Linked DNA regions of Homo sapiens. The protein of the gene in region 2 interacts with the protein of the main gene of each other region in a biochemical or structural test. Each region holds a gene or a part of one and is shown on either strand. Other genes may lie near its edges. The genes, in order: EGFR, NCK2, ERBB2 and LIMS1.

Evidence for each region.
Region 1: the proteins of NCK2 (region 2) and EGFR form a complex in vitro, tested with the Homo sapiens proteins (2 studies listed by BioGRID).
Region 3: the proteins of NCK2 (region 2) and ERBB2 form a complex in vitro, tested with the Homo sapiens proteins (2 studies listed by BioGRID and IntAct, with this or other methods).
Region 4: the proteins of NCK2 (region 2) and LIMS1 form a complex in vitro, tested with the Homo sapiens proteins (4 studies listed by BioGRID and IntAct, with this or other methods).

Annotation. Positions count from the first base shown.
Region 1 is NC_000007.14:55,196,882-55,204,127, reverse strand, and holds part of EGFR (epidermal growth factor receptor isoform a precursor), read right to left. Parts: intron 5,412-7,246; coding exon 5,265-5,411; intron 3,813-5,264; coding exon 3,715-3,812; intron 2,941-3,714; coding exon 2,773-2,940; intron 2,394-2,772; coding exon 2,346-2,393; intron 1,612-2,345; coding exon 1,503-1,611; coding exon of another isoform or gene 1,363-1,502; exon of another isoform or gene 1,052-1,362; intron 1-1,051. UniProt on the Homo sapiens protein: Receptor tyrosine kinase binding ligands of the EGF family and activating several signaling cascades to convert extracellular cues into appropriate cellular responses.
Region 2 is NC_000002.12:105,747,675-105,754,920, reverse strand, and holds part of NCK2 (cytoplasmic protein NCK2), read right to left. Parts: intron 1-7,246. UniProt on the Homo sapiens protein: Adapter protein which associates with tyrosine-phosphorylated growth factor receptors or their cellular substrates. Maintains low levels of EIF2S1 phosphorylation by promoting its dephosphorylation by PP1.
Region 3 is NC_000017.11:39,695,258-39,703,304, forward strand, and holds the start of ERBB2 (receptor tyrosine-protein kinase erbB-2 isoform a precursor), read left to right. Parts: upstream 1-4,806; 5' UTR 4,807-4,981; coding exon 4,982-5,054; intron 5,055-7,532; exon of another isoform or gene 7,533-7,657; intron 7,658-8,047. UniProt on the Homo sapiens protein: Protein tyrosine kinase that is part of several cell surface receptor complexes, but that apparently needs a coreceptor for ligand binding. Essential component of a neuregulin-receptor complex, although neuregulins do not interact with it alone.
Region 4 is NC_000002.12:108,537,433-108,544,678, reverse strand, and holds part of LIMS1 (LIM and senescent cell antigen-like-containing domain protein 1), read right to left. Parts: intron 1-7,246. UniProt on the Homo sapiens protein: Within the IPP (ILK-PINCH-PARVIN) complex, binds to F-actin, promoting F-actin bundling, a process required to generate force for actin cytoskeleton reorganization and subsequent dynamic cell adhesion events such as cell spreading and migration.

The DNA.
Region 1 (7,246 bases), on a different chromosome or scaffold from region 2:
GGTATATCATCTGCCTTAACTTGCATTTTTCTAATAGCTTATAATATTGATAATCTGTTTATATTATATTAGATAGCCAATAAACTATATATTAGATATTACACTAACATATATATAACTTACATATGTTATATATCTAAATCTTTATATACATATAACATATGTATAAAGATTTCTACATATTTTTATATATAAAGATTTTGATATATATGACATAGATATTAGATAGCTAATAAACTACATATTAGATATATAGATATTAGATATTACATCAACATATATATAACATATGTTTTATATATATCTAAATCTTTATACATGTGTGTGTGGGGTGTGGGTGTGTATATGCACATACATATGTGTATGTGGTGTGTTAATGTGTGTTTCTGTGGTGTGTGTGGTGTGTCTACGTGTGTGTATGTGTGGTGCGTGTATGTGTGGTGTGTGTGGTGTGTGTATGTGTGTGTGTGGTGTGTGGTGTGTGTGTGTATGTGTGGTGTAGTGTGTATATGTTTGTATGTGTGTGCGGTTTTTGTGGTGTGTGTGTGGCGTATGTGTGTGTGGTGTGTGTATGTGTGGTGTGTGTGGTGTATGTGTACGTGTGTATGTAATGGTGTGTGTAGTGTATATGTGTCTGTGTGTATGTATGTGTGGTGTGTGTGTATGTGTGCATACATGTCTGTAGTGTGTGTACGTGTCTGTGTTGTGTGTTGTGTGTACGTGTGTGTGGTGTGTCTGTATGTATGTGTGGTGTGTATGTATGCATGGTGTATGTGTGTATATATGTGTGTATACGTGTGTGTATGTGGTGTGTGTGGTGTGTATATGTGTATGTGTGTGGGGTTTTTGTGGTGTATGTGTGGTGTGTGTATGTGTGTATACATGTATGTGTGTGTGGTGTGTATGTATTTGAGGTGTGTGTGTATATGTGTGTGCATGTGTATGTGTCTGTGTATGGTATGTGTGTGGTGTCTGTGTATGTGTGTGGTGTGTGTATATGTGTGTATGTGTATGTGTGTGTATATGTGTGTGTGTTAGCAGGTTATGAGTATCTGGATAAAGCTTAAAATTTATTAATATTAACTAATATTTAATTAGTTAAATATACGTTTCACAGGTCAAGATAGAGCCAGCAGAGAGAACAGGGATCAAATCTGTCACAAACACACACATACACACACACACATACACAGATGTACACACATCATGAACACTCACACACACAGATGTGTATGTCCGTGATTTGCTTCATAAGCTAGAAATTTTGCAGATTCATTCTTACAACAGAGGTACAGCAAACAACCAGACACAACAAAGAGCTTGTGCAGGCTCGGTCATGTGTTTATCTGCTCCTTACGCCCTTCACTGTGTCTGCAAATCTGCCACTGTTTCCCCCTCTGGAGATGCTGGAGGGAGCACCTGGCTTGGACACTGGAGACTGGCTGCTGCTGAGTGGGTCGAGGAGGTTGAGGAGCAGGACTGTTTCCAGACAAGCCACTCACCAGGCACTGGGAGGAAGGTGTCGTCTATGCTGTCCTCAGTCAAGGCGCCTGTGGGGTCTGAGCTGTATCGCTGCAAGAAGCTGTCTTCCTTGATGGGACAGCTTTGCAGCTGCAGGAGGAAATGAGGGAAGGTTACTCCGGTCAGGGCTGCCCCAACTTCAGTGTTTGCAAAAATCACCCGAGATCTCCTTGAGATGCTGGTTCTGATTAGTAGGTTGGGCAGGCCTGAGAGTCTGCACCCTGGTGGGTGCTGGTGCTACTGGGCCACAGGCTGCAGGGTGGGCAGCAGGGCTGTGCTGGGTGCTGTACAGCAGAACTTTCCGCAGTGAGGGAGGTGTGCTATGAGCGGTGCTCTTCAATACGGTCACCACTAGCCACGTGTGGCTACTGGACACTTCACATGTGTGAGAAACTGAATTTTATATTTTATTTCATTTTAACTCATTAACATTTAAGTTGAAGTAGCCACATGTGGCTAGTGGTTTCTGCATGGCACAGTGCGGTCTAGACCACGGCCTCACACTTCAACAGACATCAGCATCACCTGGAAAGTGGCTCAAACATAGACTACTGGGTGCCACCCCCAGAGGTCCTGATTTGGTCAAACTGGGGCAGTGGCCTGAAAAATGGCGTTTCTAACAAGGCCAGGCGATGCTACTACTGGTCCAGGAGTCACGCTTTGAACGGCACTGTGAGGCGTGACAGCCGTGCAGGGAAAAACCCACACAGGAAGAAAACTCAAGATTATCTGGGTTAAAATTATTTAGGTTAAGGCATTTTCCATGTAAAATAGAGCCATAGTGGAGAGCTGTAAATTCTGGCTTATAAGGTGTTCATACATACCCCATTTCTATCAATGCAAGCCACGGTGGAATTGTTGCTGGTTGCACTCTGAAAAAGAAACAGAGAAGTTGCCCATGGAATGCTTGTACCACATCTCATCCACTTTTCCTGAATGCAGGTGGTGTGCCTCATGGAGGGTATATTGTGAAGGTGTTTAATTTTTGTCTTAATCGTTAGTTTTAGAGCAACTAGGTTTAGTTTTGATTTAATTACATTCCATAGTGGACCTAAAAGGCTTACAATCAAGTTGTTGCAATGCAACAAAATAATTAATACACTTAATTTATTTTGATTTTGATTTTACCATTTGGTTAAAATTGACTTCATATCCATGTGAGTTTCACTAGATGGTTATTTTCCCTAAAATTCAATTTGTTCAAATGAGTAGACACAGCTTGAGAGAGAGAGAGAGACAGAGATTTCATACCAGAGAGCTCAGGAGGGGAGTCCGTGACGTGGAGGGGCTGCTGAAGAAGCCCTGCTGTGGGATGAGGTACTCGTCGGCATCCACCACGTCGTCCATGTCTTCTTCATCCATCAGGGCACGGTAGAAGTTGGAGTCTGTAGGACTTGGCAAATGCATTCTTTCATCCCCCTGGTGCAGAGATTTTGAGGCTATTAGAATGGCCCGTAGAGATGCTATTCCACTTCTTGGCTATAGGAGCAGGGGTCTATTGCCAGCAGGTGCCTGTGTGTTTGCCAATTTTGTTATAATGAAATCCCCCTTGGTTCTCTAAATTATAGCTGCCTCCCCTCATGACATGATGTGGGTGCCTTAAAATAAAACATGAACCATCCTTTGATGCTTGAAAGCCCCTACATGAGATTCAAATAGCTTCTGAGGAAACAGAAAGGGAAGAAGCTGCAGCATTCATCGAGTGTGCACCTTGCTGTGAGGTGTTAGGGAGCGTATTTTGCAACATATTTTATTGAATCTTTGAGACAATCCTGTGAGCTTGGTTTTGGTATTCCTGTGTTATGGAAGGAGATAGGTGGATCGGCTGCCTGGGTGATGCGAAGAAGTGGAGAGTCAGGGGTGTGAAGCCACGTCTGCCTGACACCAAAGCCCAATAGACCATGCTTCTCTCTTAGACCCAGCTGAGGCTTTGGCTAGCCGGACAGTGAGGACGAGCACCAGAGGAGAGTTCAGACGGGGAGGGGGAGATGGAGTTGGGTGGGCCCCACTCACGGATGCTGCTTAGTTCACGATGTGGCCTGCGCCTTACTGAGGCTTGCTCTAATGCGCTGGAGGGTTTAATAATGCGATCTGGGACACAGGGAGGCCAGGCTGGCATGTGACAGAACACAGTGACATGAGATGCTCATTAGAGGGACTCTTCCCAATGGAAGCACAGACTGCAATTTGTACCTGAATGACAAGGTAGCGCTGGGGGTCTCGGGCCATTTTGGAGAATTCGATGATCAACTCACGGAACTTTGGGCGACTATCTGCGTCTATCATCCAGCCTGGGGAAGGAATGAGAAAAAACAGTGCAATTAGAACACTGGAAGAAATGATAAAGATGGCATTGCTTAAAGAAGGCATTGGTGATGCGACACTTCCAGTCAAATAAGTGATGAAAGAACCAAGTCTTTGTGGTAGACTTTTCTGTCTTGGCCAGCTAGTACTGGTTACTGTTTAAAGACCATGCCAGCACTGTACATTTGAATCAGAATAACAATAATGCCCTCTAGTTTTTCTACGCCCACTCTTCCTGGGGTCAGCATCCTGTGTTACGCCTGAGGGGATGGAGCAGTGTGGGTCTGTACAATTGCTCTCCATGAACTATCCTGACTGCAGGGTGCCCTGCACCAAGGTCCTCACTCAACATCCACCCTTAGCATTCCTTCAGGTAGGAAACCAGATGCAACTTAGAAAAATAGGCTTTAAAGAATTTGGGGTTGGGACTGGGCCCCTACCCCCGGCGTCTCCAGTACAGCACATACCCAGTGGGCATGCATGCAAGTGAGAAGGCTGGTGGGCATGCATGCAAGTGAGAGGGCTGGCTGTGCTGGCAACTTCCACAGGAGGACACACTGTTAACTGTGCTGCTGCATGTGACTACCCAACAATCTAAATCCAGATTAAACAATTTGGAGGTATGGCTACTGCCTGGAAATCCTCATGCCTCTTGAGGGATCACATTTATTTTCCATCCACAGCATATCAAGCTATTTTAGGCCAGACTGCTATGTGACCTTAGACAAATCACGTGGCTTCTCTGGATCACAGCTTCCTTAGCCCAAACCAAGGAAGTTAAAAAAGATCAACTCTGTGGCCTAGAGTTCAGAAAGGCATTAATATTTACATTAACTTGGCTCTGTCATATTCCCTATACAACTTTCTTTTGCAAATGCTCATCCCATGCATGTAATGCTACCTCCAGAGCCCACTGCACTCGTGAATCTGGTAGAATAATAGCATCAATCAAATTACACACTCTTATTTAGATTGAAATGTTTAAATGCCACACTGCAGAGACTTCACATAAATCCACTGGTTTAAAAGGTTTAAGTCAAAGCAGAAATGTTGACTCTATTAGCCTTATGTTGTTACTCACTGCCATGCATTTAAAAACATTCAGTCTCTCTGGTAACAGGCTTCAAAATATAGGGCAACTCGGTATTTCATTGAGTAACTCAGCGAATAGAATATTTTGGTGTAATGGCTTGCGGAAGACTTTAGTTTTATTTATTTGCTTGCAAACATGGGCAAATGTCAGGTCATACTGCCCAATGAGTCAAGAAGTGTCTTTAAAAGAATGCTTGAAGGGGTATTTACAGATGTTTCTGGATTTGTGTGCCTGCCTTAAGTAATGTGATGACATTTCTCCAGGGATGCAAAGGCCTCAGCTGTTTGGCTAAGAGCAGCCACCAAGGCTCAGCTAGGCAGTGTGGACAGACCCACCAGTCACTCACACTTGACCATGATCATGTAGACATCGATGGTACATATGGGTGGCTGAGGGAGGCGTTCTCCTTTCTCCAGGATGGAGGAGATCTCGCTGGCAGGGATTCCGTCATATGGCTTGGATCCAAAGGTCATCAACTCCCAAACAGTCACCCCTGAGAGGATGAAGCAAGAAAAGAAGGCAGTGGGATCATGAATGAACAATCACAATCCCTTGCTTTAGTCATCATTACTGGTTACTGTTTCTTGATGTTTAGAAACCTACATTTCTGTAGTCTTGGGCAATTTGCTTCAATGCTGGAAGCCTCAGTCTACCTCTCTATAAAGTGGGGTAATAGCAGTATCTGTTTCACAGGATTGCTGTAAGGACCCAACAAGATAATACAACTGAAATGCTTAGTGCAATGCCCAGCAAGTAGTAAGTGACTGATAAGTGGTAAACTTTGGTAATTAACAATAAAGACAACAGTAACTCTACTAGCATAAGTATTATGCTCCAGACAGGATACACACTCAGTCACCTGCTCTGAGGGACCTGTATCTGCAGAATGAGGAAGATGCAGATTCTGAACAGGGCTGTAAACTGCACATTTTTAGATCATAAAAAAATTGGAAATGAAAAAGCTTAAGTTCCATTTGATAAAAATAAAAACCTCAGGAAGAAACTGAATCCCTGAACAGACCAATAATGAGCTCCAAAATTGAATCAGTAATAAATAGCCTACCAACCAAAACAAAGCCTAAGACTAGATGGATTCATAGCCAAATTCTACAAGATGTACAAAAAAAGCTGGTACCATTCCTACTGAAACTATTCCAAAAAAATTGAGAAGGAGGGACTCTTCCTTAACTCATTCTATGAGGCCAATGTCATCCTGATACCAAAGCTTGGCAGAGATACAACAAAAAAAGAAAACTTCAGGCCAATATCTCTGATGAACATAGACATAAAAATCCTCAACAAAATACTGGCAAATCGAATCCAGCAGCACATCAAAAAGCTTAAGCCACCACAATCAAGTCGGCTTCATCCCTGGGATGCAAGATTGGTTCAACATATGCAAATCAATAAATGTGATTCACCACACAAACAGAACTAAGGACAAAAGCCACATGATCATCTCAATAGATGCAGAAAAGGCTCTCAATAAAATTCAACATGTTTAAAATTCTCAATAAACTAGGTATTTAAAGAACAAACCTCAACATATTAGCCATCTATGGCAAACCCACAGCCAACATCATATTGAATGGGCAAAAGTTGAAAACATTCCCCTTGAAAATTGACACAAGACAAGGATTCCCTCTCTCAACACTCCTATTTAACATAGTATTGGAAGTCCTGGCCAGATAAATCAGGTGAGAGAAAGAAATAATGGACATCCAAACAGGAAGAGAGGAAAACAGCTATCTCTGTTTGCAGATGACATGATCCTATATCTAGAAAACCCCATAGTCTTGACCCAAAACCCCTTAAGCTGATAAACAACTTCAGTGAAGACTCAGTTGTACAAAATCAATGTACAAAAATAATTAGCATTCCAATATGCCAACAACAGTCAAGCTGAGAACCAAATCAGGAATGCAATTCAATTCACAATTGCCACAAAAAGAATAAAATACCTAGAAATACAGTAAACCAGGAAAGTGAAAGATCTCTACAATAAGAACCACAAAACACTGCTTAAAGAAATCAGAGATGACACAAACAAATGGAAAAACATTCCATGCTCATGGATAGAAAGAATCAATATCATTAAAATGACTATACTGCCCAAAGTATTTTATAGATTCAATGTTACTCCTATCACACTACCAATGAGATTCTTCACAGAACTAGAAAATACAATTTAAAAATTCACATGGAACCAAAAAAGAGCCTGAATTGCCAAGGCAATCCTAAGCAAAAAGAACAAAGCTGGAAGCATGATGCTACCTGACTTTAAACTACAGGGATACAGTAACCAAAACAGCATGGTACTAGTACAGA
Region 2 (7,246 bases):
ATCTGTTTCTATAACCATCTTGCTAGATTCTGCAACCAAGGTTGTTTCACTTTTTTTTAATCGTTTGATGAAAATTCACTCTTCACCTATATTAAATTTCCCAAAAACTGTCTCAAAATAACTCCCTGAATCCCTTGTTATTTCTTGGTCTCTTAAAAATATTCAAGTAGCTTGTGCTTTTTATGTCAATGTCTCCAAGCTGGCTTCCATCATGCAGAGCAGTTTAAAAAAAAAAAAAAAAAGTTGTTGGGGGAGCTGCTTTCTTACCAATGCAGCAGCTCCCCCCAACCTCCCACAGACACACACAAACAGGAATACAAGCTTTTAAAGTGATTGTCCTTAAAATGAAGACAGCTGATGAGAGGGAAAGCATGAAAGAGACAGCAACTGCTCTCCTCTCCTGTAGCCAGGCTCATAAGTGACATAATTAAAATATTTGTTGACTTGCAGACATCCTTAAACACGCAACCAAAATTCTTAAGATATTAAATGGGAGACATAACCGTTAAGGAAAATCGAAGGAGACATTGATGGACTTTGTCCTCTAAGATGGGCATGGGCGTCTTTCTAGGCATCTCCCTGTGATCTCACCACTTTCTAACTTACTTTTCACTTCTCACTTCCTGGCTGCCCCCACCATTGCTGGGAAATTAAGCATGTTGAAGTAAACAATTCTTTGCCACCACATATCCTGGAACCTGCTACGTGTAGAAGTGGCCACATGAGAGGTAGTGTGACTGCAAATCTAAACCTGTGAGTTGAAAGAAACTGCCCAAATTGCAGCCCCTCTGAAACTTGGAACATGCAGGAGCTTCTCCCAACAGAGACGCCAGACTCACCGTCCTATCTCAGTCCCATCTGCTCCAGGGAGGGCTGCTCAACACTCTGATGGCCCCAGTGGCCCTCCTAACACAAAAGGGTAGGTTCGAGAAGCTGGCACAGACAACTCACTTGGAAGAGCAGCCAGTGTCAGAGTTCCCATCAGGACCTGTAGCAGCAGTCTCCCAAGAATCTACATTTGGACTTGACCTGGCCTCTCTCACAACCTCAGAAGCAGATTTCAAAGCCACCTTGGAATTCTTCAAGACCTTCCCAGATGTCATAAAAGCACAAAGGAAAAGGATTTGGTATGTCCTGCTACAAGGTTTTCAGCAAGAACCTACCTGCCTACCTTCACTTCAACAACAGCAACTCATTAAGGAAAAACAGAAGCAGCAAAAATGGCCTTGTGCAAGCTATTCCAACAGCACAAAAGTCCGGGGGCCACTTGGAAGAGTGAGAAGACACACACTCCTGTTTTCTCAGCCCCCAGTGTGGAGGAGACAAGGGTGGGGACCCACCACACAGCTACTGATGAAGAGGCACATCACACAGGCATTTACAATGGCACCTGCATGACCACTTGAGCTAATACACTGTGACTACAACAGAAAATACTCCCCCTCATCCAGTGCCACTGCAGTTCCCTCCAGCAGCGGTTCTCCCCAGGGAATGCTGGTGTTTCCTGCAGAATTGGAGACTTGGGCAGGTGGAGGACCACCAGCCTACGGAACATAGCAAGGGGGCTGGGGGAGAGGAGCAGCCAGGCCAATGGTCCTCAGTGATGACCATCCAAGGCTTCCCCTCCTCCAAGGTACCAGTTATTCATTAGGCCCTTCCAAAGTCCAGGGCCTTCCCCAACCACTTGGCTGATAAGGCGTTCCCAGAATGAACCTGTATGCAAGCTACACTCCCTATCAATGATTTTCCATCAATGTTTCTCAAATCTTACACCATAATAAAAGTTTACAGTTCTGTTTTATGTATTTTCAGATACATCTTAATGAAGGGATGGTGGCTAGCTTGGTCAGAGTCTAGCTGTGGAACCTAAGACATGGCAGCCTCAGTGCCTCCCTTTCCTTAGCGATGAAGATACAAACAGAAAGTACCACACGTTCTGTTGGTGAGGACTCAATGAGTTATTACATGGAAAGTGCTTAGAACAGTGATTACAATGTGTGTGTGTGTGTCTGTGTCCGTGTGGGAGAGAAGCTAATGTTCACTTTAAAAATACATGATTTTAGCTTGTACTTAACATGTTATCAGAAATATGAATACTACAGATGACTGGATAAAGAAAATAGACTATTCAGCCATAAAAAAACAATGAAATCATATCTTTTGCAGCAACACAGATGGAACTGGAGGCCATTATCCAGACGGAACCAGAGACTTGAAGGGTGATGGGGTAGGAAGGGGTGGATGATGAGAGATTACTCAATGGGTACAATGTATGTTATTTGAGTGATGGATACAATAAAGGTCCTGAATTCACCCTTAGGCAATTTATGTAACAAAATAACACCTGTACCCCATCACTGTATACAATGTTGTTTTTTACCTTTCCTATGGTGCTGAACACATTTTTTAAAAGGAAATGTGTTGAATACTGATATACAAAAATGTTATTTTACACTGGTAACTTCTAGAATTCAAACCACATTTTAAGATATTTGTAAAATGAACAAGGTATTTTGATGATAGATATTAGTTTTAACTGAATCTGATTTTAGTGCTCTAAAACATCATGTGCTGAGTGTCTGAAGGATGACATTACTCCTCATATTTAAAAAGGTTACACCTTTCCCAGTAAAGCATAATAATAATGACCATTATAATTATTCTACATTGTTTCCACTTTGTCTCTTTAGCTATCTCAACTTTGGAAAACAGACAGCAAATGAGGCTTAAATCATGAAAAGTGTATAGACTCACACTCCGCAACAAGGCTGCCACTAGTCGCGTGTGGCCAAGGCCAATCAAAATGCAGCGAGAGGCAGCCAAGAGGTGCAGTAAACGTATATACTATATGCTGAATTTCAAAGCCCTCACGCAAATAAAAGAATATGAGTTATCTTATTAATTACATTTTATGTTGATTACACATAGAGTTTATATATATATTGGGCAAAATATAGGATGAAAATTAATAATACTTGTTTGGTTTTACATTTTTAATGTGGCTACCAGAACATTATGATTACATCTGGGGCTTGCATTTGTGGTTCACATTGTATTTCAAGGGGTCAGCACTGCTCTTGACAATCCATCAGTTCAAATGGCATTTGCAGGGAGACAGTCCATATTAAAACACACATACGCACCATTTTCTGCAGTTAGTCTCTTCTCCTCCCATGACAGAGAGCTGGGCCCATGCTCAGTTCCATGCAAAGCTGTAGTGGGGTAGCCCTGCCATTACTGCACAGGAGAACCCTGAACCAGTCCCAGTGGAGAGAGTCTTTAAAAACAAACTGATTATAAACTTAGTTTTGTTATCACAATTAGCAAACCATCAGTGGGTGGCCACAGATGACTTGTAGCTCAGCATGTGTGTATATGGGGAAGGGGATATTTAGATGCTGGGAGAAACAGAGAGGCAGCCCAGTCGTGCAAGCCCATGACTGCCATGCTGGGGACTTGAGTCACTGACCCAAGTACGATGGAGAGCCACCGTGTGCAGGTCATGGCCAGACCTGACTGTCAGGGTGCAGTCACCCTGGGATGGATTGGCAGGAATGGTTAAAAAGTGGTTTTGATGTCCAGGGGAAACAGAAAAAGGACAGCAGGGCTGAGATGTTAGATCTTTTGGAGGTAGAATCAATAGGGGTTGATAACTAGTTGGGAGCTGAGGGAGAATTCAAGGATAACCGAGTGAGTCGGTGATGGGGAATATAACTGAGAAGGCGGGCAGGTTGCAGGAGAAGCTGCAAATGGTTTGGGATGGTGGAAATGACCACTAAGAACTTGGATAATTCATATGAATGTGAATGAATGAGCAAACAAAGCATCAATGAACATACAGATCTGGAGCTAGAGGGAGGTCAGTCATGCAGGCATTGCCCCTGCCTTATGTCTGAACAAGGCAAAATGGCCTAGGTCAGAAACATTCCAGCCACGCTCAGGGTGCACCTCACCACCGTCATGCACATTCTGCTAAGGGATGTTTGCTCATGTGGCAAAGACTGCACGATCACAGAGATGGCAGGCTCAGAGGAGACGGCCTCTCCACCCTGGCTGCCATTGGCCCCACCTCTTGCTTTGCTCTCTTCATCCAGGGTTCAGAAAAAACTTTCCTTTGCATATCACTGATATTTTATCATGGTCTCAATTAAAGACAAACCAACCCCCAAATAAGTGTCTACCTACCTAAGTTGAAGAGAAGTTTCCATAAATGAAATCAAGTCAAGATTTTTCTCTCTCTTCAATCACTCTACTTAAAACCTTTCCAGCCTTTGGAAGGCCAGCACCAAGGCTTGTTCCCTGTTATGGGGTGCTACAACCAATATATAAAGAGCTGACGTTCCCTCCTTACTTGTGACTACTCTAACCATCCCTGGTAGGTGTCCCCAAATAAACAGAGATCCCAGATCTGGATGATGGGAGCACCAGGTCTTCCTAAAAGCATCAGCCCTGTTGTGGAACCTAGACAGACACACTGGGAGTGGCTGAATTGTCCACCCTAAATTCATATGGTAAAGCCCTAACCCCTAAGTGACTATATTTGGAGACAGGACGCTTCAGGAGGCAATTAAGGTTAAAAAAGGTCATAAATAAGGTTAAAAAAGGTCACCATAAGGGTGGGGCCCTCATCCAACAGGACAGATGTTCTTATAAGAGGAAGAAACACCAGACCTCTCTCTCAGTGCACTCACAGAAGGAAGGCTACGTGAGTGAGGACACAAGAAGACGAGCCAGGAAGAGACACTCACCAGAAACCAGCCCTGCCGGCCCCGGGGTCATGGACTTCCAGCCTCCAGAACTGTGAGAAAATAAATGTCTGCAGCTTTAGCCACCCATTCTGTTGTTGTTGTTTTGTGTGTGTGTGTGTGTGTGTGTGTGTGTGTTTGTTTGCTTTTGAGACAGGGTCTCACGCTGTCACCCAGGAGTGCAGTGGTGTGATCTTGGCTCACTGCAACCTCCGCCTCCTGGGTTCAAGCAATTCGCGTGACTCAGCCTCCCGAGTAGCTGGGATTACAGCCGTGAGCCACTGCGCCCGGCCTCTGTGTGTTATTCTCTTAAGGCAGCTGGAGCTGACTAATACACGCACTAAACAGGAATAAGCTTTCTGAACTTGAGGAGGCTTTCCAGGGTAACCCTGGCCCATAACCAGGATGTGGGGACAAGAGAGACTGACATTGCTCCTGCCGGCCTCCCCTCACACCGCTCAACCTCAGTCAACTCACATCCAGAATCTGCTCCACCAATATCTACACACAGCTGCGACACGGCAAAGGCAGATACCCAAGGACACTGTGTTCTGTAAACTGCCTCACAAAAAAACAACTCTACCCAGCAACACGTTGGTGTTCCTCATGTATGGCCTGCAGAAGGACTTAACCTAAATTCAAGCTCTGTCATCCCCAGTCTCCTACCTAGAAATGAGGGCCAGAACCAAGTGCACCATGTTATTCGACTATTAAATATGATGGTGTATGTGAAGAGGACTTTGCAAACAATGAATGAGCGTGCATGCATTAGTACATGTCATTCTCTCATCATGGCATTTTCGGTCTTCACTAACAATTTGGCAACGTAAGCACCCCAGCTTCCAAAATTGTCTCAAAAGAAGCAACTGCAATACTTAAAATTCTGAGTGCACTTGAAGCTTCTTCTCTTAAAAACATTACCAATACAACAGTAGAAAGAAGGGGTGACACAAATAACTAACTTACCAGGCCAGGATCACAAACGGTCTGCCCAGCGTTTTGAATTCAGGTTGATAGGAACAGACTAACCTACAAAAGTAAACCATTCAGCCAGCCCACCAGGTAATACAGTTGAGTATGGGGTTGGCTTTGTTTTTTTGTTGTTGTTGTTGCTGTTGTTGTTTTTAAATGTAGCTTCAGGACTACAAATGACTCACATGACAGAAAATTTGCCAAATAGAGAGGCCAACAGACCAAATTCTCCCATTGTCTGGACATCCTGAGGTCAAAGCCTTCCACAGTAGACAGAAGTTCTGAGATTTACAAGAATGCTGGAGGTCTCTTACCACTTGAATCTCAGTGGGAGGCTAGAGCCCCAATATTAACAGGCTGGGCACTCATTATTCACATATTCAATAAGTATTTGTTGCACACTCATTGTGTATAAGTGGCAAGACCAGTCTGCCCCCAAGCGGTTCAGAATCTAGTAAAGAAAAGATGAAGGCAAAAAAACCATAGGGCAGGGTATGGTGGCTCTGGCCTGTAATCCCAGTACTTTTGGAGGTCAAGGCAGGAGGCTCACTTGAGCCCAGGAGTTTGAGACCAGCCTTGGCAAAGCAGCAAGACCCTGTCTCTACAAAATAAAAATAAAAATAAAAATAAAAAAATTCACTGAGCATGGTGGTGCACACCCGTAGTCCCAGCTACTCGGAGGCTGAGGTGGGAAGATTGCCTGAGGTGGGAAGATTGCCTGAACCCAGAAGCTCGAGGATGCAGTGAGCTGTGATCATGCTACTGTACTCCAGCCTGGGTGACAGGGTGAAACCCTGCCTTAAAAAAAGAAAAAAAACAACTGCAGGAAAGAATGTCACAGATGACAAATCAGGGACACAAAGAAAGTGCTGTGGAAGTTTAAAGATGATGCCATCCCCTCTAGTTTGGAGTTGATAAGATGTGGGGAAGAAAAGAAGTAAGAGACGACCCTTGGGATGAGTAAGAACTCAGGACACGGAGGAGACTGAGCCAAGGAGTTGAGAGGGAACACAGAGGCTGGTCAGGGACAGTGACACCGTATGACATCACTGTGACACTGCTACCTCAATCAAAATAACTTTCATTTCCACAGTTTCAAGGACTAAGATTCTTGAGGTAGGAATGTATGTGCCAGTACACATGTGGATGTGTGTCACTGGGCAGAGGTAATACTTGCTAACGTTCATTTACCTTTAGAAATAAACATACTTTGGGAAATGTTCAAAGGAAAATGCAGGAAAAGAAAAGAGTCTAATTTTTTAATTGTGCTACTAAATGGCCTAAAGAAATGCAAAACTGTTTTTGCTTTAGCTGCACACTTTTGATAGCCCGTTAAAAGGCCGTCACGACCTTCTTCTGAGTTGCCTTAACTCAGGCATGGAACAAGATACACGAAATCACATTTTAGCTTAGGCCCTTTGAAAACGTGCCGTGAAGTATTTCCATCACTCATTTTAGGAAACAGAAACCATTTGGAAGTGCCACTCGCAAACCCTCTGGATGGGAAAACTAATTTCCTAAGCATCTGA
Region 3 (8,047 bases), on a different chromosome or scaffold from region 2:
TGGGCCTGCATTCCTGAGATGTGGGTAAGAGGGGCCCAGGGTCAGAGTGTCTGGCAAGCTTGGCTCTGCCCCTTTGCTGTCCTGGAGACTAGGGCTAATCCTGGGCTCAGGGAGTGGCCTCCCCATGGTTAGGATACAAGTGCTCATCAAGGGCCACCCCTAGGAAGGACCAATTTTCCTATCAGAAGCTTCTAAGTTATCCTCCTTTGGCCCAAAGGGACACCTCAAGCCTACTCTGAGGAACTCTTTCCAATGAACTAATTCCTACAGTCACTTCCCCAGCAACCTGTGCCTCAGCCTCAAGGCACTGTGGGGTAGGCCTCAGTTTGTGGCCTGGACATCGGACTGTGGACCAGACGACTCCTCCCGATTTCTGTTTGTTTTCAGTCCTCTGACCCCAAGCTGGCTGGTGAAGTAGGTAGAGGGAGGAGACTTTGGTGCATGCATACACACACACACACACACACACACACACACACACACACACACACACACACACACGTCTCCTGTGCCCCCCAGTCTCCATGGCTGGTCAATGATTGACTGGCATTTCACAGGCCGCTGGTTGCAGCCCCAGCCTGTTGACTTAGAGGTCACCCTCGGAAGCTAGAGCCCTGTCCTGCCTCTTCAGTGTCAGTGGTCACTCCACTGCCCACAGGCTGGGGTCTTGGGCAAAACACACGCATCTGCCCTGATCTGAGTTTGCTGCCCTCTGTCCCGCAGTCAGCCCCACTCTGTTCCCACTCCCTCTCCCCAGCCCCCTAGCTAGACCCCTCTCACCAGCACCCCTTTCCCTTCCCTGAGGGTCCCCCTCGCTGTCTTTGTCCCTCAGACATCCTCTTTCCTGGGCTCTCCTGCCAGGCCCTGCTGGAGGGACAGTTAAGGAGGAAATCGAATCAGCAGCGCCCACCCCTGCCCCCCTTCCTCTCCTCTTGTCAGACACCAGACGAGGTTTTTTCCTCTGGCTTCCCAGCTCTGAATGGGCTCATTCTTTTTCAGAGGCTCGGCCCCTCTCGAGCCTCCTCCCCAGGGCGTGAGTTCTGACCCCAGCTCCTCCCCCCATCCCCACTCCAGCCCCCTCTCCAGCTTGCTCCACCCTCTCTACCGCCCACCGGGACTGGGCATTGTCTGCCAGTCCGGGTTTCTTCCTGGGATTTGGGATGCAGAGAGGATGGGTTTGCTTGGGCGGGGGGGTGGAGAGTGAAGGGGGGAAGCAGGATCTTTGTAGAGGGAGGGACCTACAGTTACCTGGACTTCTTTCCTCTGTCTCCCCTCTTGGTACCCTTGACTGGGGCTCTTGAGGGTAATGGGTGAAGCCAAATCTGCCATGGCTCAGTTCCCAGCTCAGCTCTGTGACCTTGGGAAAGTTCCTTTAGCTCGTGGAATCTCAAGGCTCAAGGTTCCTCTTCTGCAAAATGGGGAATGATAACACCTGCCTCCTCTGGAGTCTTGGGGACTCAGTGTTCTGAGGAACGTGGCTGTAGGTCAGAGTGGCACAGAGTAGGGTCCAATGAAGCATGGCGTCCACAGTAGCTTTCCTGACTGGACTAACCTTTCCGGACACAACAGCAGGGCAGGGGTGGGGCCTGGGGAGAAAGGACACCTCTAACCCTGATCCTAACATCCCGATGGCCTCTAAGGCTGCCTGCACACTCATCCAGGTGCAAGCCCTCCAAGGTGTGGTGTGATGAACCAGTGACTCCTGGAGCCAGGTCAGCGCATCCTCTTCCCGCAGGGCTGTAAGCTGCAGGACTGAGAGGCAGGTTGACCAGGTCCTGGGCTGGATGATGGGGTGAGAGTAAGGGGTCAGTTTTGATACATGCCCAACTTTTCTCTCTAGCCCTAAGACATCCTGGGCAAATTGCTTACCTCAGTTCCCCTGATCCTCACCCTAACCCTAACACCAGCTCAAGAGAAAATAGGGATATTGATGGCCATCCAGAAGGGCTGCTGTGTTCCATACACAGCAATATTTCTCGAATGTTTGTGACAGCGGTCCAAGGAATAAGTTAATTTTACATTATCACTCTGGATACCTGTACAAAACTCCACCTTATCCTTACTATATGAATGTGCTAGGGTTGTTTTTTTGTTTTGTTTTTTTTTTTTTTTTTTGAGACAGAGTTTCGCTCTTGTTGCCCAGGCTGGAGTACAATGGCGCGATCTTGGCTCACCGCAACCTCCGCTTCCCAGGTTCAAGCGATTCACCTGCCTCAGCCTTCCCGAGTAGCTGGGATTACAGGCATGCGCCACCATGCCCGGCTAATTTTGTGTTTTTAGTAGAGACAGGGTTTCTCCATGTTGGTCAGGCTGGTACCAAACTCCCGACCTCAGGTGATCCACCTGCCTTGGCCTCCCAAAGTGCTGCAATTACAGGCATGAGCCACCGCACCCAGCCGTGCTAGGGTCTTTTTCTGTTCAATTCCTTTCTCTCTCTTGCTCTCTTTCTTTCTTTCAATGGAGTCTTACTCTGTCACCCAGGCTGGAGTGCAGTGGCAAGATCTCAGCTCACTGCAACCTCTGCCCTCTGAGTTCAAGCAATTCTCCTGCCTCAGCCTCCCGAGTAGCTGGGATTACAGGTGCCTGCCACCACACCTAGTTAATTTTTGTACTTTTAGTAGAGATGGGGTTTTGTCATGTTGGCCAGGCTGGTCTCGAACTCCTGACCTCGTGATCTGCCTGTCTTGGCCTCCCAAAGTGCTGGGATTACAGGCATGAGCCGCCATACTCGGCCAACTTTGTATTACTTTCTTAAAGAGAGTTTCCCAAATTATATAAGCTTCAGGCCCCACAAAACCTAGATCTGCCCCAGTATAACTAAATCTGGGACCATTTATTGAGCAATTATTATGTGCCAAGTATTGCGCTGAGTGCTTCCAGAGCATTATCTCCTTTAACCCCAGCATAGTATGTCAGATGCTGTTTTACAGATGAGCCAACTGAGACCAGAGATGCTCAGTCACTTGCCCAAGGTGACATGACTGATATGGAATAGAGTCAAGATTTTTTTTTTTTTTTTTGACACGGAGTCTCACTCTGTCTCCCAGGCTGGAGTGCAGAGGCGCAATCTCAGCTCACTGCAAGCTCTGCCTCCCAGGTTCACGCCATTCTCCTGCCTCAGCCTCCTGAGTAGCTGGGACTACAGGCACCCGCCACCACACCTGGCTAATTTTTTGTATTTTTAGCAGAGACAGGGTTTCACCGTGTTAGCCAGGATGGTCTCGATCTCCTGACCTCGTGATCTGCCTGCCTCGGCCTCCCAAAGTGCTGGAATTACAGGTGTGAGCCACCGCGACTGGCCAGATTCAAGATTTGAACCCAGGTCCTCTTGGTCCCAGAGGCCCCTGTTTCTCAACTCCCTAGGATGGCATAGCAACCTGTCCCACAAGAGGTGCCTGCTTTAAGTGTGCTCAGCACATGGAAGCAAGTTTAGAAATGCAAGTGTATACCTGTAAAGAGGTGTGGGAGATGGGGGGGAGGGAAGAGAGAAAGAGATGCTGGTGTCCTTCATTCTCCAGTCCCTGATAGGTGCCTTTGATCCCTTCTTGACCAGTATAGCTGCATTCTTGGCTGGGGCATTCCAACTAGAACTGCCAAATTTAGCACATAAAAATAAGGAGGCCCAGTTAAATTTGAATTTCAGATAAACAATGAATAATTTGTTAGTATAAATATGTCCCATGCAATATCTTGTTGAAATTAAAAAAAAAAAAAAAAGTCTTCCTTCCATCCCCACCCCTACCACTAGGCCTAAGGAATAGGGTCAGGGGCTCCAAATAGAATGTGGTTGAGAAGTGGAATTAAGCAGGCTAATAGAAGGCAAGGGGCAAAGAAGAAACCTTGAATGCATTGGGTGCTGGGTGCCTCCTTAAATAAGCAAGAAGGGTGCATTTTGAAGAATTGAGATAGAAGTCTTTTTGGGCTGGGTGCAGTTGCTCGTGGTTGTAATTCCAGCACTTTGGGAGGCTGAGGCGGGAGGATCACCTGAGGTTGGGAGTTCAAGACCAGCCTCACCAACGTGGAGAAACCCTGTCTTTACTAAAAATACAAAAAATTAGCTGGTCATGGTGGCACATGCCTGTAATCCCAGCTGCTCGGGAGGCTGAGGCAGGAGAATCACTTGAACCAGGGAGGCAGAGGTTGTGGTGAGCAGAGATCGCGCCATTGCTCTCCAGCCTGGGCAACAAGAGCAAAAGTTCGTTTAAAAAAAAAAAAAAGTCCTTTCGATGTGACTGTCTCCTCCCAAATTTGTAGACCCTCTTAAGATCATGCTTTTCAGATACTTCAAAGATTCCAGAAGATATGCCCCGGGGGTCCTGGAAGCCACAAGGTAAACACAACACATCCCCCTCCTTGACTATCAATTTTACTAGAGGATGTGGTGGGAAAACCATTATTTGATATTAAAACAAATAGGCTTGGGATGGAGTAGGATGCAAGCTCCCCAGGAAAGTTTAAGATAAAACCTGAGACTTAAAAGGGTGTTAAGAGTGGCAGCCTAGGGAATTTATCCCGGACTCCGGGGGAGGGGGCAGAGTCACCAGCCTCTGCATTTAGGGATTCTCCGAGGAAAAGTGTGAGAACGGCTGCAGGCAACCCAGGCGTCCCGGCGCTAGGAGGGACGCACCCAGGCCTGCGCGAAGAGAGGGAGAAAGTGAAGCTGGGAGTTGCCACTCCCAGACTTGTTGGAATGCAGTTGGAGGGGGCGAGCTGGGAGCGCGCTTGCTCCCAATCACAGGAGAAGGAGGAGGTGGAGGAGGAGGGCTGCTTGAGGAAGTATAAGAATGAAGTTGTGAAGCTGAGATTCCCCTCCATTGGGACCGGAGAAACCAGGGGAGCCCCCCGGGCAGCCGCGCGCCCCTTCCCACGGGGCCCTTTACTGCGCCGCGCGCCCGGCCCCCACCCCTCGCAGCACCCCGCGCCCCGCGCCCTCCCAGCCGGGTCCAGCCGGAGCCATGGGGCCGGAGCCGCAGTGAGCACCATGGAGCTGGCGGCCTTGTGCCGCTGGGGGCTCCTCCTCGCCCTCTTGCCCCCCGGAGCCGCGAGCACCCAAGGTGGGTCTGGTGTGGGGAGGGGACGGAGCAGCGGCGGGACCCTGCCCTGTGGATGCCCCGCCGAGGTCCCGCGGCCGGCGGGGCCAGAGGGGCCCGGACGAGCTCTCCTATCCCGAAGTTGTGGACAGTCGAGACGCTCAGGGCAGCCGGGCCCTGGGGCCCTCGGGCGGGAGGGGGCAGTTACACGGCAGCGGCTCGAGATGGCCCATCCAAGAGACTGGCGCTTTCCAGGCTCCGAGGGGCTCCGGGAACTTGTCAAAGAAGTTCTCTGAAATTGTTCAGAAAGTTTTCCCGCAAAGGGTGTATTGCGTAGAGCGCGCGCGCGCGTTTCCCCCCTTCTTGAGCCCCCTCAAGCTTTCTCAAAGCCTTTCCAGTTGGCAGCCTCCGCCTCCGGACTGGCCTGGGCTGGATTCCTTGGGGGGGTCCTCTGCCCTGCCCCTCCTCCAGCCCCTCCCCGCTCCCCTTCAGACGATTTTGGTTTGGTTGCTCCTGCTTCTGGCGGGGTCGGGTGTGTGTGTGTGTGGTGGAGTGGAGGGTGGCATAGCAACCTGTCCCAACCAGAGCCGGGGAGGAAAGGGTGGCCCGGAGGGTGGCCTCTTGCTGGGGTCTGGGTTGGGGGCGGGGGAGACGTTTGCTTTGAACAGATTCTTGGGGCCAGCTTAGGGACTGTGCTCTGTGACTTTTGGAGCGCGTGGACCATGGAGGGGTGGGGGTGGGTTTCTTGGGGTGTAAAGTGGGAGAGTTCCCAGAGAAGGAAGCTAAGAAATAAGGCCAGATGGGAGCCTAGGGAGGGCTGCGTTGTTCTGCTGCCTTTTCCTTGGTGCTGTGCGTGGGGAAGGGTGAGTGGGGGCAGTGTGTATCCTGACCCATCTGTCCACCTGTGTGCATTAATCATAAAAGCTAACATATAGCCTGGGCCAGGTATACTCTGCCAGGAACTGTTTGTGGTGTTTTGCATGCATTCTCCTTTAATCCTAGAACACCCCTATAGTGGAAGTTCTGCCAGCATTCTGGACTGAGTAGCAGTCCAGAGGTTGAGTAGCAGCTAGTAAGTGGTGGGGTCAAGATGGGACCCCAGGCAGTGCGACCCCCAACCATGCATTCGAAATCGCTATATGGATGAGTGCACCTGGAGCAATGAGGGACACTGCTCCCTGAGTCACTGGGCTGCAGGGGAGACAAAATGAAAGTGTTCTGGGAGTCGTGGGTGGTCTCCATAGGTCAGAGGGTCTGGGGAGGGAGTGGGTGTCATCGTGGCTGTGTGTTGCCCGAGGGGCCCTCTGTGAGTGAGTGCATGGCCGTGTTATCTCTGCAGGTCTACGCCAGGGTGTTCCTCAGTTGTGTGGTCTTTGTATTTGTGTGTCTGGGCTTTGTGTTGCCAAACAGCAGTCTCTCTGCTGACTTGGGGACACAGGCTGAACTCTGTCCTCTGCAGGAACTCCCTTAAGGTGCTGGGCCAGATCTGCCATAAACAGAGGGAGGTAGCCTTCTATGGCCACGCCTTCTTGCTGAGGAAGAAGGTTCCTCTCTTCCAGGGAGTACATCCTTGCCCTCCCTGTTTCCCAGACAAGCATCTTCACCTCTCATCTTCTGATGAGAAGGGTGAGGCCATACTGAGCTGTCAGGCTGAGCTGCTGCCCTTCCTCACCTTGGGCTGGGAGTTGATCAGGGAATGGCAGTTGCTGCAGAGCTGGATTTGAGGGCTGGGTTCTCTGGATGGGGCCTCCTCATGTCCTCACCCCTCAACCTGCACTATTGATTGTGTTGTGCAGGAGTTAGTTAAAAAGTCATTGCACAGCCTGGGCAACAAGGCAAAACTCTGTACAAAAAATACAAAAATTAGTTGGATGTGATTACACGTGCCTGTAGTCCCAGCTACTCCGGAGGCTGAGGCAGGAGGATCACCTGAGCCCAGGAAGTTGAGGCTTGCAGTGAGCTGTGATTGCAAATGCTCTCCAGCCTGGGTGACAGTGTGAGACTCCGTTTCAGAAAAAAAGTATACCACCCAGCTGCCTCCAGCACCCAGATTTTACCCAAGGGGTGAGGTCTGGGGCAGGAATGTGGGGGAAGGGGAGGCCTAGGGGGAGCCCCAGAGGGGTCAGGATTTTTCTGAAATCCTTTCTTAGAGGTATGGGTTTTACAAATTGCAGCAAATACATCCTTTTAATCTTGCAGAACTCCTTCATATTTTAATTCCAGTATGATTCTTCCAACAGCCTCCTCTCTTTACTATACTTGGGGAAAGTACTCATTTTATTTGTCAAGAAAAAAACAATTGAAAAGATAGGGATCAAATGTAAAAAGAAAAAATACGTGGCATTCCAAAGTCAAACACAAAGCATGTTTAATTTTCTCGTGGTTTGGGATTACCCATATTCCTGCTGTATGAACCTGTCTTGTCTTAACTTTTAAGAAATGTACGGTGTACTTCCTATATGCTAGGTTTTTATCCATGCTTTCATTTAATCTCTGTGACAGTCCTGTGAAGTAGGTGCACAGATGAGAAAATGGAAGTTCAGAGAAATGAAGCAACTTATCCAAGGCTCCCAGCTACCCAGTAATGTCCAGGGAATTTTTGGACTCTGAAGAGGAGGCATTAAGAGGTGGTTAGAGTCTTATTCCAGCCAACAATAATGGGTTGAACAAAGCCTTAGGGGCAGGCAGGTGGCCAGATGGGAGGAGAAGCGCTCCTCTTGTTCAGGCGAATGACCTTTCCATCCACTTCTCTAGGCTGTAGAAAGTGGAGCTGAGCTGGGGGCCCTGAGGTTCCCTCTTGACTTCAGAGTCCTCTCCCTTCCTGTCCAGCCAATGCCTGTCTTCCTTTTGGGCCCTACCAGCATGACAGGGGGCTGCGGGCAGGAGGGGACAGAGGCCACGTTGACACACAGGGCTGTGGGTGAGAGAGACAGCTGAAGTGTCAGCGTGAGGGGCCAGTGTGGGGCTGCGGCTGGGAGGGCTGGGGTGGGGCCCAGGGTAGTTGTGCCTGTCCTTGG
Region 4 (7,246 bases), 2.8 Mb from region 2:
TACTAAAAATACAAAAATTAGCCAGGCATGGTGGTAGGCACCTGTAATCGCAGCTACTTGGGAGGCTGAGGCAGGAGAATCGCTTGAACCCAAGAGGCAGAGGTTGCAATGAGCCAAGAGCACCAGTGTACTCCAGCCTGGACAACAGAGCAAAAACATCGCCTCAAAAATAAATAAATAAAATAATAATTGTTGAAGCTGAGCAGAAACACACAGAGACATATTATTCTCTGTATTTTTGTATATGTTTGAAATCCTCCATAATAAAAAATTAAAAAGCATAGATTTCATGACATACATCCCTCAAGAAGTATGGGATGAGGCTGAGCAATCAGCATTTTTAGCATGAACCCCATGCCATTAGAAGTCTGCAGCCCATGTTTTGAGAGCACTGTTCTCCCTGATTCTTGAATTTTCCCTACAACATTCCAAATAAGCCAGGCCTCTGGTTGAACCCTACGATGACCAATACACCTCTACCTGCTAAGAATCCAATAATATTTGACTGGTCCTAATGTCTTCAATAAGTAACAACTAATCTATAATAACTACTAACAAATTACCACTTCCTCCTTTAAATTTCTTTTTACTTTTTTTGAGAGAGACAGGGAAAGAGAGAAGAGAGAAAAGAGAGAGGGAGAGAAAGACAGAGAAAGAAAGAGTCTTGCTGTGTTGCCCAGGCTGGAGTGCAGTGGCAAGACTCAACCTCCCAGGCTCAAGTGATCCTCCCACCTCAGCCTCCTGAGTAGCTGGGACTCTTCCTGGACCAAACTGAGGGTTGGGCTGCTATTTCTCGTGGCCCAATAACGAGATGCAGATGAACAGGGGAGGAAGAGAGTTTTTATTTCTGCAACCAGTTACAGGGAGAAGGCCTGGAAATTATCACCAGACCAACTCAAAATTGCAGTTTTCCAGAGCTTATATACCTTCTAAGCTATATGTCTACAGGTAAGTGTGCATTCACCTGAAGACGTAAGTGATTAACTTCTTTTAATCTATAACTAAGGTCTGAGTGCTGGAGACCTTCTTCTGGATCCTCAGTAGATTTACTTCATCTAAATGGGTCCAGGTGCTGAGGTGATTACCCTTGTCTCCTACTAAATCACAGAGGTTTGGGGAGTTTTTTCAGACCCACAATAAAATTTGTTTAATCCTAAAAGGGTCCTGTTAAGAATTCTTTTGTTATTTTCTCATGCTTTAAGGCCCAGGAAAGGCCTAGGCAAAACTCTTGGTAGGTTTCTGTTACACTCCAGCCTTTGATAAGGGCACTGACTTGTTTAGCTTTTACTATTTCACTTAACCAGTCAGTCAGTATTGAAACAGTTGTTATGGAGGCCTGCATTAGTGAGACCTAGCCTGCCACAGGACTACGGGCACGTGCCACCATGCCCAGCTAATTTTAAAATTTTTTGTAGAGATGAGGTACCACTATGTTGCCCAGGCTCATCTTGAACTCCTGGGCTCAAGCGATCCTCTCACCTCAGCCTCCCAAAGTGCTGAGATTACAGGTGTGAGCCACCATGCCCAGTGAAATTTCTAAAAGACTTTTTTAAACAGTCTCTTATGGGACTTGTACACACAAAGCTACAATATTAGACAATGTGTCCTTCACTCTATTACAGCTGTATACTCCATGCCCTATAGCATAGTACAGTGTATATAATGGACACAAATTGTATTGAAAGATGTGTTCCAAAATTTGTAAATATCACTTTCACATATGCAAGCACAGCCAAGAGTTCAAATAAAAATAATGAAGTTTGTGTGTTGCACACAAATACAGACACATTAAATTTGGGTAGAGAACTGAATCTTACCCAATGCATTCTCCGGGAGGTCAAGAAAAGAAAGCCTAATAGGTGTTGAAGCAGCCAAGGAAGTCATCTTCAAGACAGAGGAGTTTAAGCTGGGACTTGAGTTGTAAGACTTGGGAACTCCTACCCCCTTAAAAAAGGAAAGGCTACTCCTAGCAGAGTAACAAAAATCAAGTTCAGAAAGAAGGACTGTGGTATGGTTGGCAATAAGATGATATAAGCGTAAGGGTAGGAGGGAGTAAAACTGGATAGGTTGTCTGGACATGCCAAGAAAAAGCCTTGAGACTTGGAAAAACAATTAGCGAGCTGTGACCTCTTCTTGACCAGTGCCATGAAGTGAGGAGACACAGGGCTCTACAGGGCACTTCGGTATGAATCCCAGCTGTCACTAATTGTATGACTTGGTGAGTTCTTAACCTCTTGAGCTTGGTTTCCTTATCTGTAAAATAGATATAAAGATCCTACTTCGTGGTGTGGCTGTGATGGTAAGATTATATAAAACAATATCCTTAAGGTATTTGTGTGGAAGTAGGTAATTAAGAGAAGGTGGTTATGACTAACCGAGTTTCCAAAACAGTGGCCTAGGAGGAAACTAAACAAGGATGCCTAAATATCATCTGAATTTCTCCTAAATGTTTCATGATGTTGGGTCTCTGCCAGCAGTCTGTAATACACTGTAGAGTCAAGCTAAACCAAAGAAAATGATCCTGTTTTACTCAAAGTTTTGTGAATTTATTCAAACAACGTCAAAGACACTAAACAGAGCTAGCCCTGAACTTTTCGATTCACTAACAACAAATAAAAGGAGAAATAAAGCCTACTGTGCAGCTTGTTTTTCTTTGGATATTTAACAAATTTGATTAAGACATTCCTTTACTTCCAGAGATTACACTTTGGCAGAAAAGCTTAGACATATATACAAAAAACTATAAAACAAAACAGAAATTGGTAATTACCAAAAAAGAATTCAAAATGCTTTGGGAAAACAGAAAAAGCTCTGAATCCCTAATTCCCTACTACACAGCGGGGGCTAAATTAATGCTCCAGGAATTCGTTATTTTATGAGAGAAGCGGCAATTTTGTTCCAGCTGCCAAGAAAACACAAAAGATGATGATTTTCCAGGCCCAGAGAAGGGCATGAACAGCACTGAGGCAGGAAATCATCATTTTCAGAAAAAGGCAGTGGGTTAGAGAGACAAAGGCTAAGGAAACAGTGTGTGACAAGGCTATGAAGATGGGTTGGGCCAGATCACAAACAGCCTTAAATTCCAGGCGCTGGAGTTTGGACCTACTTGACAGGCAATAAGCAGCTTCTCAATATTTTGAAAACATGTGACCAAAGTAGTTCTTTAGAAAAATCTGAAACCAACATGGATGACAGATCAGTCAGGTGCACCTGCACTGTACCTGCACAGAAAAACAAATCCTGTTGAATCTACTGCACTGAGAAGGAGAAACAGCTAGCTGTGGCAAAAGCTGCAACTGCCTACCCAATGTCCATTCTCCCTCCCTTCCTCACTGTATTAACAAGGCAAATTTTAAAATGGACAGCAATGTGCCCAGCTTTAAAAGTAAGCAAACAAAAACAAAACAACAGCTACATTTACCAATGAGAAATAAACATATCTGTTTAAGTAGTTGGTAACATTTGTCACTCAGCTGATGCATTGGTAAGGAAGCCCGTCAATAGGAAGGGATCTCTCTGGGGAGGAAAAAGTTGCAAGCACCAGCACATGTGGCTAGGAATACCAGGTCTTCAACAACACTTCTGAAGTGTTCTTCAAAAGGAATCACTTGAAAGAGACTGACATCCAGGACACCTGTAATAGAACAATTCTGGGCCAATATCCATAATTCATTCAGACATTTCCAAATGTACTATGTTAATGGGCTCAGCTATAGGTCTTGGTCCTCAAGGTATTTACTCTATACTGTAGACAAAAAGATAAAATATATACACACAACAAACTGTAACAATGCAATGTGAATAAAGTAACAGAGCAAACCAACGTAATATAGCAGAGGAGACCCCACAATACAACCACATCTTGGGCTGTATTCCTAACCCTGCTGTTAACTGACTTTCGGCCTTGAATAAACTATTTTACCTTCTAGGCAAATCCTGTCCTGTAAAATAAAGAAGCAGTGTATTTAAATAAAGGGCTAATGCAGGGGACCCACTAAAGTGCATGAGTTCAGTAGGTTCCAACTTTTTCACATATAAACCCACTTTTTAAATGTTAAATAAATTTTCTTAGATCTTCATGTCACCATGATTGTCTTTTTAGCACGTTAACAGATAAAGCATGCACTATATAAATACTACCACGAATTCCACAAACCCTTTAAAAGAATCTGTACTTTATCAGCCAGGCGCGGTGGCTCAAGTCTGTAATCCCAGCACTTTGGGAGGCCGAGGCGGGCAGATCACAAGGTCAGGAGGTAGAGACCATCCTGGCTAACACGGTGAAACTCCGTCTTTACTAAAAATACAAAAAATTAGCCAGGTGTTGTGGCAGGCGCCTGTAGTCCTAGCTACTTGGGAAGCTGAGGCAGGAGAATGACTTGAACCCGGGAGGCGGAGCCTGCAGTGAGCCGAGATCATGCCACTGCACTCCAGCCTGGGCAACAGAGCAAGACTCCGTCTCAAAAAAAAAAAAAAAAAAAAAAAGGAATCTGTACTTTATCACCTGTTAAATGAAAATTAGAAACATTCACAAAACATCATTTGTTCCACTTCAAACACTTAGTATGTGCATAGATTTTTTTTTTCAAGCCAGTTGGAATAAGTTTACAGTCCACAGGACACTGGCTCTGCATTCTCTCAAGTCTTTCCCAGTCTTAATACTATCATCTTATGTTCATTTGAAAGATTTTCAGAACCAGGGTGAAAAGGAAATCAGTAAGAAAGGAGTGAAAAAAGAAAACGATGGATTCAAGAGAAAATTCGAAGGTAAGAACTCAGCAAGAAGGTGGCTATAGGGAGGGAAGGACAGGAAGAAACAAAAGCAACCATGTTAGGTGCCATTAGCAGCAGTATAAGTCCGGAGGAAAAGAACCAGGATGATGGGAAATGATGACTTCATTGAGCATCTACTATGTTCCTGGCATGGTGTTAAATGGTTTAAAAATGAAAACATACACGATTTTAAAAATCAAAACAGTACAAAAAGCTATACAACAAAAAATGTCCCTCTCATCCTGGATTCTCAGGTGCCTAGACTCCCTCTCCAGAAGCAACAATCACTAAAAATTTCATCGGTATCCTTTCAGAAATATTTGCATTTGCCTTCATATTTAGTTATCACAACAACCTCTGAGACAGGTGGGATTATTTTATAAATTAAGAATCTGAGGCTTAAAGACGCTGACAGGGCCAAAGTCAAAGAGCCATGAAGGGACAGAACTAGGACTAGAACATGGACCCAAACACTCATGCACATACTAACTCTACACTCAGAAAGCTATGAAAACTCTGGTAGCTGGGTGCAGTGGCTCGCGCCTGTAATCCCAGAACTTTGAGAGGCCGAGAAGGGCGGATCGCTTGAGGCCAGGAATTCAACACTAGGCTGGGCAAGATGGGGAAACCCTGTCACTACAAAAAATACAAAATATTAGCCGGGCATAGTGGCATGTACCTGTTGTCCCAGCTACTCAGAAGTCTAAGGTGAAAGGATCACCTGACCCCAGGAGGTTGAGGCTGCAGTGAGCCATGATTGCACCACTTTACTCCAGCCTGGGTGACAGAGTGAGACCTTGTCTCAAAAACAAAACAAAACAAAAAACACTCTGGCAGAGATGTTCAAAGTGTTTGTGATAATTAAAAAATAGAACCCAAATAACCACTAGTCAAGGACTGGATGTACAAATCATATCACATGTACACTGTGAAATACTATGCAGCCATTAAAACTAAGGTTAAAAAACATAAGGTAAACCCAGATACACCGCTCTAAGACAGCTTGTTGAAGTAAAAAAGCAATTGCAAGAAATGGGGAGTTGGTATTTACTGGTCACAGAGTTTCAGTTTGGGAAGATGAAAAAGTTCTTGGAAGGAAGGGTAGTGATGGTTGCACAGCAACGTCAATGTACATAATGCCACAGAACTGTACACTCAAAAATGGTTAAAATAGTAAATTTTGTTTTGCATGTTTTCCCGTAACTTTTTTAATACTAAAAAAAGCAATTGCAGAATAGTATGACTATGATTCCATTTTTGTAGAAAGGGAAAGTATGTGTAAACATTACTTGTAAATGCATGTTGTCTGTTATCTTGCTTTACCTTGCCTGCTACTCAGACATCCTGAAAGCCCTGGATTCCTGGTGTGCTGATGCTGAGTCCCGTGCCTCCCACTGCCAAGCACATACTCCCAGCAGCTGAACTACTGCCTTCACCTTTCTTCCTACCTCTCACAGAATGCACTCTTCAGCACTTGCTTTATCTGCAGCTGTCCCGCCCCACTGTTAAATGTCACTGAAGACTCATCAAGCTCCAAAACGTGCTCCAACGTGAAAAAAGATGCAGGAAAATGACTCCCTTACTCATTCCTGCAGTAAGCTCCAGGGTGGAAATGTGTGATATGATCAAATAAAAGAGATGAGATTATATCAGAAAGAGTGAAAAGGAAACCTCTGTTGCTGAAGAATGCACAGTATATGGCAACAGGTAGTGCAGCTCCTGCTTCTCAAGTGTCTTAAAATTAAAGTTTTTGGAAGACAATGTGGCAACAGTCCAGCATATAATGTAGATGACATCCCTGTGGGTGGAAAACCACAGCTTAAAGTGTAGTTACGAGAACTATAAAACTAACAAAATGGTTTGAGATGTTTTTCCTTCTATTTAAGTGCAAACCTAGGTAAGAACATGACCTATACTGAGGTTTATTTATTTAAATGATTATCCAAAGAGCAAACACAACATTATTGAAAATAGAGGCTTTCAGAGTAAAGCTCGGCTCTCCTGTTACTGATCTGCTGCAGCTATGGAAGTTTCTCTGACCCAGTGGAGGGGCTCCAAGGTCCCCCTCTCTAGGAGGAAAGGAAAGCCTACTTGTTGTACTCACATTTAGCAAAGGAAAGAACTGCCCAGGAGACAGGTCAAGGGGCTACAGCAAAGGGAAAAGGGTGGGAATGATCAAATAAAATCAAGACAGCACAATCCTGATGGACAGTTTTCTCTAAGCCTGCAAAAACCGGAACCACCAGAACTGAAATGATCTTTTGTACCACCAAACTTTCCTTAGCTTTCTTAAAAATCAACAGTTCGATTTTCTCACCATACAAACAGGCACAGAGCACTGAAAAGTGTGAATACACTTAGGCCCATGGCATTGTCCCTCTTCATAATGGCACTGGCCATTTTCTTATCAGGGAAAATCCTGAAAGGCAGAAAGTTGCTTCTTCCATGGTGGTCCAAGTCTTAGTTATTACAT